2 linked regions of the Homo sapiens genome follow. The protein of the gene in region 1 purifies or fractionates together with the protein of each later gene. This does not show direct contact. Each region holds a gene or a part of one and is shown on either strand. Other genes may lie near its edges.

Region 1 (5,855 bases):
AAAGAAAGAAAGAAAACTTCAGGCCAATATCCTGAAGAACATCGATACAAAAATTCTCAACAAAATACTGGCAAACTGAATCCAGCAGCACATCAAAAAGCTTATCCACCATGATCAAGTTGGCTTCATCCTCAGGATGCAAGGCAGGTTCAACGTACATGAATCAATAAATGTAATTCATTACATAAAGAGAACTAAAGACAAAAACCACATGATTATCTCAATAGATGCGGAAAAGGCCTTCGATAAAATTCACCATCCCTTCACGTTAAAAACTCTCAATAAGCTAGGTATCAAAGGAACATACCTCAAAATAATAAGAACCATTTATGACAAACCCACAAGCAATATCATACTGAGTGGGCAAAAGCTGGAAGCATTCCCCTTGAAAACCGGCACAAGACAAGGATGTCCTCTCTCACCACTCCTATTCAACATAGTATTGGATGTTCTGACCGGGACAATCAGGCAAGAGAAAGAAATAAAGTCTTTTCAAATGGAAAAAAGGAAATAAAATTGTCTTTGTTTGCAGATGACATGATCCTATAACTAGAAAACCGGATCATCTCAGCCCCAAAGCTTCTTAAGCTGATAAGCAACTTCAGCAAAGTCTCAGGATACAAAATCAATGTGCAAAAATCACAAGCATTCCTGTACACCAACAACACGCAAGCAGAGAGCCAAATCATGAATGAACTCCCATTCACAAAGGGAATAAAATACCTAGGAATACAGCAAACAAGGGAAGTGAAGGACCTCTTCATGGATACCTATAATCCACTGCTCAAGGAAATCAGAAAGGACACAAACAAATAGAAAAACATTCCTTCCTCATGGATAGGAAGAATCAATATCGTGAAAATGGCCATACTGCCCAAGGTAATTTATAGATTCAGTGCTATTCCCATTAAACTACTATTGACATTCTTCATAGAATTAGAAGAAACTATTTTAAAATTCATATGGAACCAAAAAAGCTCATATAGCCAAGATGATCCTAAGCAAAAAGAACAAAGCTGGAGGCATCGTGCTACCCAACTCCAAACTGCACTACAAGGCTACAGATGCCAAAATAGCATGGTACTTGTACAAAAATAAACACATAGACCAATAGAACAGAGTAGAGATCTCAGAAATAAAACTACACATCTGCAGCCATCTAATCTTTGGCAAACCTGACAAAAACAAGCAATGGGGAAAGGAATCCACATTTAATAACTGGTGCTTGAGAACTACCTAGCCATATGCAGACAATTGAAACTGGACCCCTTCCTTGCAACTCATACAAAAATTAAGATGAATTAGAGACTTAAATGTATAACCCAAAACTATAAAAACCTTAGAAGAAAATCTAGGCAATATCATTTGGGACACAGGCACAGGCAAAGATTTCATGAAATTGCCAAATGCAATTGTAACAAAAGCAAAAATTGACAAATGGGATCTAATTAAACTAAAGTGCTTCTGCACAGCAGAAGAAACTATCATCAGAGTGAACAGAAAACCTGCAGAATGGGAGAAGATTTTTGCAATCTATCCCTCTGACAAAGGTCTAATATCCAGAATTTACAAAGAACTTAAACAAATTTACAAGAAAAAAATAAACAGCCCCATCAAAAAGTGGGCAAAGAACATGAACAGACACTTCTCAAAAGAAGACATCCATGTGGCCAACAAACATATGAAAAAAAGCTCAACATCACTGGTCATTAGAGAAATGCAAATCAAAACCACAATCTCATGCCAGTCAGAATGGCATTATTAAAAAGTCAAGAAACAGCAGATGCTGGTGAGATTGTGGAGAGATAGAAATGCTTTTACACTGTTGGTGGGAATGTAAATTAGTTCAACCATTGTGGAAGATAGTGTGGCAATTCCTCAAAGATCTAGAACTAGAAATACCGTTTGACCCAGCAATCCCATTACTGGGTATAATAGAAATCATTCTATTATAAAGATATGTGCATGCATATGTTCATTGCAGTGCCATTCACAATAGCAAAGACATGGAATCAACTCAAATGCCCATCAGTGATAGGCTGGATAAAGAAAATGTGGTACGTATACACCATGAAATATTATGCAGCCATAAAAAGGAACAAGATCATGTCCTTTGTAGGGACATAGATGGAGCCAGAAGCCACATCTTCAGCAAACTAACACAGGAACATGCAAATGCTGCATGTTCTCACTTATAAGTGGGAGCTGAACAGTGAGAACACATGGACACCAGGAGGGGAAAAACACACACTGTAGCTTGTTGGGGTTGGGGTGAGGGGAGTGAGAACATTAGGACAAATAGCTAATGCATACTTGGCTTAATACCTAGGTGATGGGTTAATAGGTGCAGCAAACCCATGGCACATATTTACCTATGTAACAAACCTGCACATCCTGCATGTATACCCTGGATATACATGCCCAGGATATACATTTTATTTAAAATAAAAATAAAAATAATAGATTCATAAAACAGAATATAATTCTGAACTTTGACTCCCTGTACCTTTAAGAGGGACCCTTAAATTTAAAAATCTATTGTATTTTTTTTTTAGTAGGGGTAGGGAATATTTAGGGAATTTGGAAGGGGTTATATAGTTCTTTAAGAATCAAATAGCACATCTTCCTGAAAATAGCACGTAGACAAAGTTTTTTTGGAGATAACCTTAGGAATATCGTAACTCTCTGATGCCACCTCCATATGTGATCCTATGTTGATTATAAGATTTTGATCAGTGGCTTTCAGACTTTTTTGACTGCAACCTAGAATAAAAGATTCATTTACATTGTGACCTAGAACACACACACACACACACACTCTCTCTCCGCCACTCTCCTGCACACAGAAATCATTGATGCTTACAACAATTCTTACTCTTACTATGGGTGATTTACTTTGATATGCTCTGTTTTTTTTTTCATTTACAAAACTGTGGATTAATTTTTTTTGACATGCTAAATTGATCTCAGTAATAGATTGTATTTATTCTTCCTTAGATTCTTCTTTGGAGCAGAATAAAAGATCTGGCCCATCAGTTCACACAGGTCCAGCGGGACATGTTCACCCTGGAGGACACGCTGCTAGGCTACCTTGCTGATGACCTCACATGGTGTGGTGAATTCAACACTTCCAGTGAGGCTCTGGGCCCTGTGGGATTGCCCAGGGATGTGGAGGGTGAACAGAGTGACTTCTGCTGGAGGCCCTGAATGATTAGTGTGGAGGACAGAGCCACAGGCACCCATCCTGATGCCATCTATACTTATATTAGTCCATTTGTGTTGCTATTAAGGAATACCTGAGGCTGCGTAATTTATAAAGAAAAGAGGTTTATTTGACTCACAGTTACGCAGGCTGTACAAGAAGTAGGGTACCAGCATCCACTTCGGGTGAAGGCCTGAGGCTGTTTCCACTCATGGAGAAGGGGAAGGGGAGCTGGCATTTACAGAGATCACATGGTGAGGGAGGAAAGCAAGGAGAGGTCAGGGGAGGTGCCAGGCTGTTTGTAATGACCAGCTGTCCTGGGAACTAGTAGAGTAAGAACTCATTACTATAAGGACAGCACCATGCCATTCGTGCAGGATCATCCCTATGACCCAAACACCTCCTACTAGTCCCGAGCTCCAACACTGGGGGTCGAATTTCAACATAAGGTTTGGAGAGTTAAATATCCAAACTATAGCACTACCCTTAATGGCAACTCAGGCTGATATAAAGTAGCATTCCCTGTTTTCTTGAAAAATTGACTTCAGAGTTGGGGATTGCCCATGCTCCCTAATTCCCTTCTTTTGAGTGCTCACATAGCCTGCTTCCGAATTCTTGGTATTTTGCTCTCTGTAAGGTCATCATTCAGGTCCAAAGAAGTCTAGAACAGGATGAGGTCTCAGTGGGACCTAGACCAAGGTTCTTGCTCTTCAGAATCATCACAGTAGCCATGGACTGGACTCTTCCATCTCAGGCACTGGCTTTGCCATCATTTTTCAGATGTAGCCTTATCCTGCCCAGAAAGACTCAACACCTCACCAGGGGAAGGGATTTCCTACAACCAAAACCCTACTGCAGTTTTCACTTCTTTTTTTTTTCTTTTTGTTTATATGGTGGATATTTTTACTTTATATAGTTTTATTCTTATTTTTACTGTTTTTCATTGTTTGTTTTTAAAAGCTTATCTTATTATAGCTTCTTTGTCCCAGGTTTGCATTACTTTCAATTACAAAAATAAAGCATGATTATTTGAAAAAAAAATACTTGCACATTACAGAAATGCATAAAAGCAAAAAGCAAATGTCACTCTGAATTTTCCCTTCACCTCCTACCTCCGCATCACTTCTCAAAGGGTAACTATTATCAGCAATTTGATATAGATCTTTCTAGACTTTTCCTATGCTAATGTAAACATATATATTTAAAATGTACACGCGCTGTTGTGCAACTTGCTTTATTCACTTAAAATTGGTAGGTATAAAGATAGCTATCCTCTTTTAAAAGGCTTTATCATTAAGAATCCTATTAATGGATATTAAGTTGCTTTAGTTTTGGTTGCTATTATGTCATTATTGTAAGAAACACTTTTGTGCGCACACACACACACACACACACACACACACACACACACACCTGCATACTTGAACGATAAATTTTTATAAATGAAACTTCAATGTTAAAGGATAAATTGTAATAGAAACTGGTAACATGTCATTTAAAAGATGGTAACTATACCCTCATCAAGAGTATATATATGAGGCCAGGCACAGTGGCTCATACCTGCAATCCCAGCACTTTGGGAGGTGGAGGAGGGAGGATCACTTGAGCCCAGTAGTTTAAGAACGGCCTGGGCAACATAGTAAGACCCCATCTCTATTTTACACTAAAAAAAGAAAAAAAAAGAATGTATATGAGATAGTTTATTTACCTATATCCCCACTAACACCAGGTATTGTTACTTTAAAATTTTTGGCTCATTTCAGAAGAAAATAATACCTCAATTTAGTGTGAAGTTCTTTGATGGTGAGGCTACTATATATACATAAATGGTAGATTTTCTGTTTCTTCTGTAAGCTGGCAGTTCATATATTTTGACCATCTGTATGCGGTATCTATTATTTTCTAATTAGTAGAAGTTCTTTATAAATTAATAAGAGCTACGATGTATTAAGTACTTACAAAGTGCCAGTGTTCCATGTGCTACGTAAGTAGTCACTCATTTAATCCTCCACAGCCCCATGAGGTCATATGGTGATCCCATTTTAGAGATAGGAAGTCTGAGGCATGGAGTTAAGTAATTTGCCAGCCAGTAAGTGGCAAAGCAAGAAGCAAAGTTTCTCAGACTAACTTGAGAAACTTTGCTCTTAACTGCCATGTTTTTCTGCCCACTTTCTGGCTCAAGTTGGCGAATATATTTTTCTTATTTTGGACTTTACACGGTGTTTATGGTCTGTCTTTTGCCACCCAGAAATGCAGAAAACCTGTCTGTTCTCTTCCTTATAGCTTCTGTGTTTCATATCTTCCTTAAAAAGATCTTCTTAGAGAAGCATTCTTCTGTATTTTCACCTACTATTTTTACTTTCACAATGTTTAAAATATTTTCCATATTTAGATCTGAGTCTTCCCACCTAGAATATGGTAATATAAATATGTTTTTCCATTAATTTTTTTAGATTTTACAGTTTTTCCCATGTTCCATGTTTTCCTTTTTAAATTTCCCTTTTAACAATGACTGTTTTATTGGTCATTCATTTAACATTTAGCTTTTAAATGTATTTACAGTAGACTTCTCTCCTTTTGTTTTATTTTTTAATTTGTTCAATTTTTCTTGAAATAAAGTAGAGAAAATGAAATAATTTATTTTTAAGAACTG
Region 2 (5,451 bases), on another chromosome or scaffold:
GGTTGCAATTTTAGATTAGGTGGTCAGAAGAGGCCTTCCTGAGAAGGTGACTTCTGAGGAAGGGAAAGAAGCTGAGGAGTGAGCTGTGCAGCTTTCAGGGGGAAGGGTGTTCCTGGAAAATGCAATGGCAAGTGCAAAGATCAGGAGGCAGGAGTCTATTTGGCGTGTTCCAGAAACATTGTGGAGGCCATGTGCCTGGAGCTGAGTAAGTGAGGGGGAGAATGGGAGGAGGTGAGGGCAGGGCGGGGACTTTAGCTTTTCCCCCAAGTGAGGTGGGATCCCCGGGAGAGTGTTGAAGCAGCCCCCTCTAACTGTCCTGTGGTTGACAGCAGTACCTCCCCTCAGGATCCTCTATGAGGATTACATGAATTAATACGTGTGAATCGAGAGTATGGTAACTGACATAGGAAAAATGCGGTAAATGTTAGCTTTTATATGTGGGTGAACGTGCGTGTCTGAGCCACAGCTGAGGCCATGTAGCTATTTGTGAGTTTGTTAATGTGAAAAAAATCTCTGAAAATCTCTTTTTAAAACTCTGCTGAGTGTTTGACAGCCCTGCTGGGGCTGTTGCTCTCTGGTTTGGACACGGGATCTTTTCTGTAACAGATGGTATCCAGGTGCAGCTGAGGTCACTCAGGCCTCAAGACACAGATAAATTGGTGCTGCCTCTTTCCCATGACCTCAGGAAGCCCAGTGTTTTCCCCCAAGAAATCTGTGGGGACAATTCTTGGGCCTTCCTTCTCGTGAGTGCTTCTTGGCCTGAGCCCCTGCCCAGCAGATCCCTTGGGTCATCTGCCTCCCCCAGGGCTGTTTCCTCTCCTGAGGTCAACCCACTTGGAGGAAATGACCACATCCCTTGATTTTCCTCACCCATGTGAAGTTTCTGTAGATTGCCTGCAGGCCTCTTGCAAGATGCAGCTCCCTCTCCAAGATTCTGTTGTGGGCTGATAAAATAACTCTTTTCACCCTACCATACAGATTCAGATTTAGGCTGTAAATTGGAGTGGAGTTTCCAAGGCTTCTGAGGGAGCTCTTAGATACATGTTGCACGTAATACTCAGTTGCCGGCACAACTTCTGAACAGGACAGGGCTGTTTTCTCTAAGAGGAAACCTTTGCATTTGTATCAGTTAGCTTTTGCTACATAACAAGCAGCCCTAAGATTTATTGGCTCAAAATGACAGTTTATTGCTCTTCATGATTCTGTGAGCTAACTAAGCAGTTCTGGTTTGGGTCATCTAGGCTGGGCCTGAATAGGCTGGGATGGCCACACTCACATGACTGGCCATTGGCTCAGTGTCACCTGGGTGATGGGGATGAGCTGGCCCAGTGCAGCCATCATCCAGCAAGCTAGCTGAAGCTTGTTTGTGTGGTGGTGGTGCAGGGTTCCCAAGATCAGTCAGAGAGGACAGGGCAAGTTCAAGCCTTTGTTTGTGTAATGTCACTGATGTCCTAATGGACAAAGCAAGTCATACGACCAAAACCAAAGTCACTGTAGGGAAGGGATTCCTTAAGGGAGAGGAATGCAGGGAGCCATTTTTGCAAACGGTTGGTCGTAGGATTGGATGAAGCAAGTTGTCGTGAAGGTATGGGCATTGTGAACATGGGTGTTGGGGGCTGTCTCTCTTTCCTTTTGGACTGTCAGCCTGAGGGCAGGGCCTGCCCTGCTGCATCTGGAGGGCTCCATCTTGCAGTACATGGTGATGGCTGGTCCAGGTATTACCCACCTTCCTCCAGATGTTGCATCACCCCACCCCAGGTGTGACCCTCGCCAAGATGTTAGTAATGTTTGCTCCCACGTTCTCACATGCTCATATCCCCCTCGTCCATTACATGCTACCCCAGGTGCCTGAGAGTCCAGGGGCTCTCCCCAGGCTGGACACGCGAAGAAGGCTCTAAACCCTTCCTATTGATGTAGCTGATTCTTTCCTTCCGTCTCTGCTTTCTCTTTCATAAAATGTAAATTCATCTGTCTTCTTTGATTTTATAATCTGAGTTTCTTCTCTGTTTTCCCCCTACATCCCCAATGTAGCTTTTCATCCCCACCATCTCTGCCTCTCTTCTGTCTCAGTTTTCCTTTCTTCTTCTCTCTTTCCCTCCCCACCCCCATCTCTCTTCCTCATCTTGCACTCACACACACACATACAGGTCATGATTCTGCCACTCCAATGGCTTAAAAATTTCCCCCAGATTCCCTAAAGCCTCCTGAGAGTGGCAGAGGATTCTAGGGGGTGGGAGAGTGAGAGAAGGGTTGAGCAGGTGGGATTTGGGCCCCTGTTCCAGCTTGAATGACGACAGCCGCTCAGCTTTGATCTGTTTGCTATCTTAGGCTTCCACACACAATGTTGTGTGGCAGAGGTTTCACTGCCCAAAGGAAAAGTTCAAACAGTTTTTGTGTAACACAGCAGAGCTCATGACAGGCTTAGAGTCAACCAGTCTGCTGAGATTAGAGGAGTCTCAGGAGAGCCAGGGCCAACAGCTTTAAGCAGCTGTCTGTGCATTGCATATCAAACTGGCGTGCAGTCTCCCAGGCAAATAGGACAAGCGTTGGCGGTGGGAGGGTGTGGCTAGGAAGGAGAGATGCCCAGCATCTGGGCACAGCATAGAGCGTGTGGCTGGCAGTGAGGTCCACAGCTGGCACAGTGGTATGAGGACAATGACTCATTCTGGGTAAACGTCAAGAGACGAAGCAGCTACAAAGAGCCAGGCTCCTGGAAAATTAGGCAAGGTACGCTTTGGACAGAAACTGTGAGAGCTTCTTCTTGTGGTTCCTGTAGTCTATAACTGCTTTCTCAGGGCTTGGGGTGTGAGAGAAAGACACGTGCTACTCAGGCCTAGAGTGAAGACCAGGACCACGCCTACCATTGATCACAGTTCATGGTTGCCGAAGAACAGATTTAATTGTACCCAGGGCTGTGCACTGCCAATGCTGGCTTGTTTCTGTGTTATTGGCAGCAATTTTATGGAACCGGCTGATTCGACTTTAAAAGAAACTTGTCCTGGAAAGGGCCTTTAAGAGAGTACATTGTCAAGTGTTTCTTTTTTTGAGACAGAGTCTTGCTCTGTCACCCAGGCTGGAGCACAGTGGTGCAATCTTCGCTCACTGCAACCTCTGCCTCCCGGGTTTAGTGATTCTTCTGCCTCAGCCTCCCTGAGTAGCTGGGACTATAGGCGTGCACCACCACGCTTGGCTAATTTTTGTATTTTCAGTAGAGACAGGGTTTTGCCATGTTGGCCAGGCTGGTCTCGAACTCCTGACCTCAGGTGATCCACCCGCCTTGGCCTCCCAAATTGCTGGGATCACAGGCGTGAGCCACCGCGCCTGGCCTGTCAAGTGTTTCTTATCCTCTCCTGGACTGCAGACCTCTTTGGAATCCTACTGACTGCTCCTTTCACAATCCCCCAAAGCATATTCACCTCAAAGACTTTGCAGACAGTTATATGAGATCATGGTTGGTCCTGAACCTCGTCCTTAGAACCCTTTTCAGGTCAAGAAGTTATGATTTAGACCAGTTACCTCATTTTATACATAAGGAAACCGAGGCACAGCGAGGATAAGCAGTTTATTCAGGGTTTCACAGATAATCTGTGACAGAGCTGGGTGTTAGTCCTAGGTAGCAATTAACTGTAGAGTCAGAAATGCATTTGAATCCTGGCTCCCCCTCCTATCTCTTACCAACTCTGCAATTTAGGCAAGATACATAATCTTGTGCCTCAGTTTCCTCATCTGCAAAATGGAGATAACAATAGTGCCTACTTTGTGGGGAGTGCTGTGATTATAGGACAAATATGTGAGGAATTTAGAACCAATATCTTAATAAATAAATTGTAGCCCTTTTGTTTTGTTTTGTTTACAATCGTGAACCAGAGACAGATGTAGCTCTTATAGGTTCTATGTATTATTTTAAGAGCAGAGATACAAGTTGATTTTTTAGCCTGTACTTCTGGCTTAAGTGCAAGTTCCAACTGCAAGAACAAAGAACTGCCACTACCTAGCATTTTTTTTTTTTTTTGTAAATCAAGTAGAACTTATGGTACTGAAATATATGTGGTGATAACACCAATGTCTTAGCTTTTGTGGTTATTATCTGGGAATTTGCAGCTGCTCTTTATGAACTCACACATCTCTTTCCAAAGAGTGTATTGGTTAGCTTTTGCTGTGTAACAATGTGCTGTATTCATACCCTGAAATGTAGTGGCTTAAAACAATGGTCATTTACAGCCAAGTGTGATGGCTCACACCTGTAATCCCAGCACTTTGGGAAGCTGAGGCAGGCGGATCGTCTAATGTCGGGAGTTTGAGACCAGCCTGGCCAACATGGTGAAACCCTGTCTCTACTAAAAATACAAAAATTAGCTGGGCATGATGGTGGGTGCCTGTAATCCCAGCTACTTGGGAGGCTGAGGCAAGAGAATCACTTGAACCCAGGAGGTGGAGGTTGCAGTGAGCCAAGGTTGCACCATTGTACTCCAGCCTGGGCAACAAGAGCAAAACTCTGTCCCAAACAAACAAACAAACACCGATCATTTATTCACTCTTGTTTTGCTTGGCAATTTGGCTGGTTGCTTGGTAATTTGGGCTGAGTTCAGCTGGGTGCCTCTTCTGCTGGGTTTTTGAGCTTACTCATGTGGCCACAGCCAGCTGGAAGATTGGCTGGAGCTGGATGGTCTCTGGGATGGCCTCACTCACATGAATGGCTATTGGCCACTCATGTAGGGTGCCTTGGTTCTCCTCCATGGGCCTTCTCTAGCAGGCTAGCTTGGACTCATTCCCATGGTATTTGGAGAGCTGCCAGGAAAAGCAAGAGAGGGCAGGCCAACCTCAATGTTCAACCATTTTTCAAGCCTCTGCTTGTGTCATGTTTGCTAATGTCCTGTTAGCAAGGCACATGGTCAAGCCCTGATTCAGAAGACAGAGGAGGAGGCCCCACCTATTGATGGGAAGAGCTCCCTAATATTGTGGCTGTTTTCCCCCAGTATTCCACATGGAAGTTTAAATAAACAAATAAGGAGGAAATTATTAGTTCTAGAAGAAAGAATGAAAGAGACAGACAGACTTGGTGGCTCACGCCTGTAATCCCAGCACTTTGGGAGGCCGAGGCAGGTGGATCACGAGGTCAGAAGATTGAGACCATCCTATCTAACACAGTGAAACCCCATCTCTACTAAAAATACAAAAAATTAGCTGGGCGTGGTGGTGTGCACCTGCAGTCCCAGCTACTTGGGAGGCTGAGGCAGGAGAATGGCATGGACCCAGGAGGCAGAGCTTGCAGTGAGCCGAGATCACGCCACTGCACTCCAGCCCGGGCTGTGGAGCGAGACTCGGTCTCAAAAAAAAAAAAAAAAAAAAAGAGACAGAGGAGGGGAGATGGGAGGTTTGCTGTTTGCTGGTGAGTGGCTTGGCATGGAGTCTCTGTTGTCAGTTTAAAACTTCAGGTTGTGACCCTTAGGA

What was found. The genes of interacting proteins can lie anywhere in the genome.
Region 2: the proteins of CD38 (region 1) and ZAP70 fractionate together in Homo sapiens (co-fractionation; one study listed by BioGRID). This does not show direct contact.

What each region holds. Positions count from the first base shown.
Region 1 is NC_000004.12:15,821,884-15,827,738, forward strand, and holds part of CD38 (ADP-ribosyl cyclase/cyclic ADP-ribose hydrolase 1), read left to right. Parts: intron 1-2,997; coding exon 2,998-3,133; intron 3,134-5,855. UniProt on the Homo sapiens protein: Synthesizes cyclic ADP-ribose (cADPR), a second messenger for glucose-induced insulin secretion.
Region 2 is NC_000002.12:97,725,726-97,731,176, forward strand, and holds part of ZAP70 (tyrosine-protein kinase ZAP-70), read left to right. Parts: intron 1-5,451. UniProt on the Homo sapiens protein: Tyrosine kinase that plays an essential role in regulation of the adaptive immune response. Regulates motility, adhesion and cytokine expression of mature T-cells, as well as thymocyte development.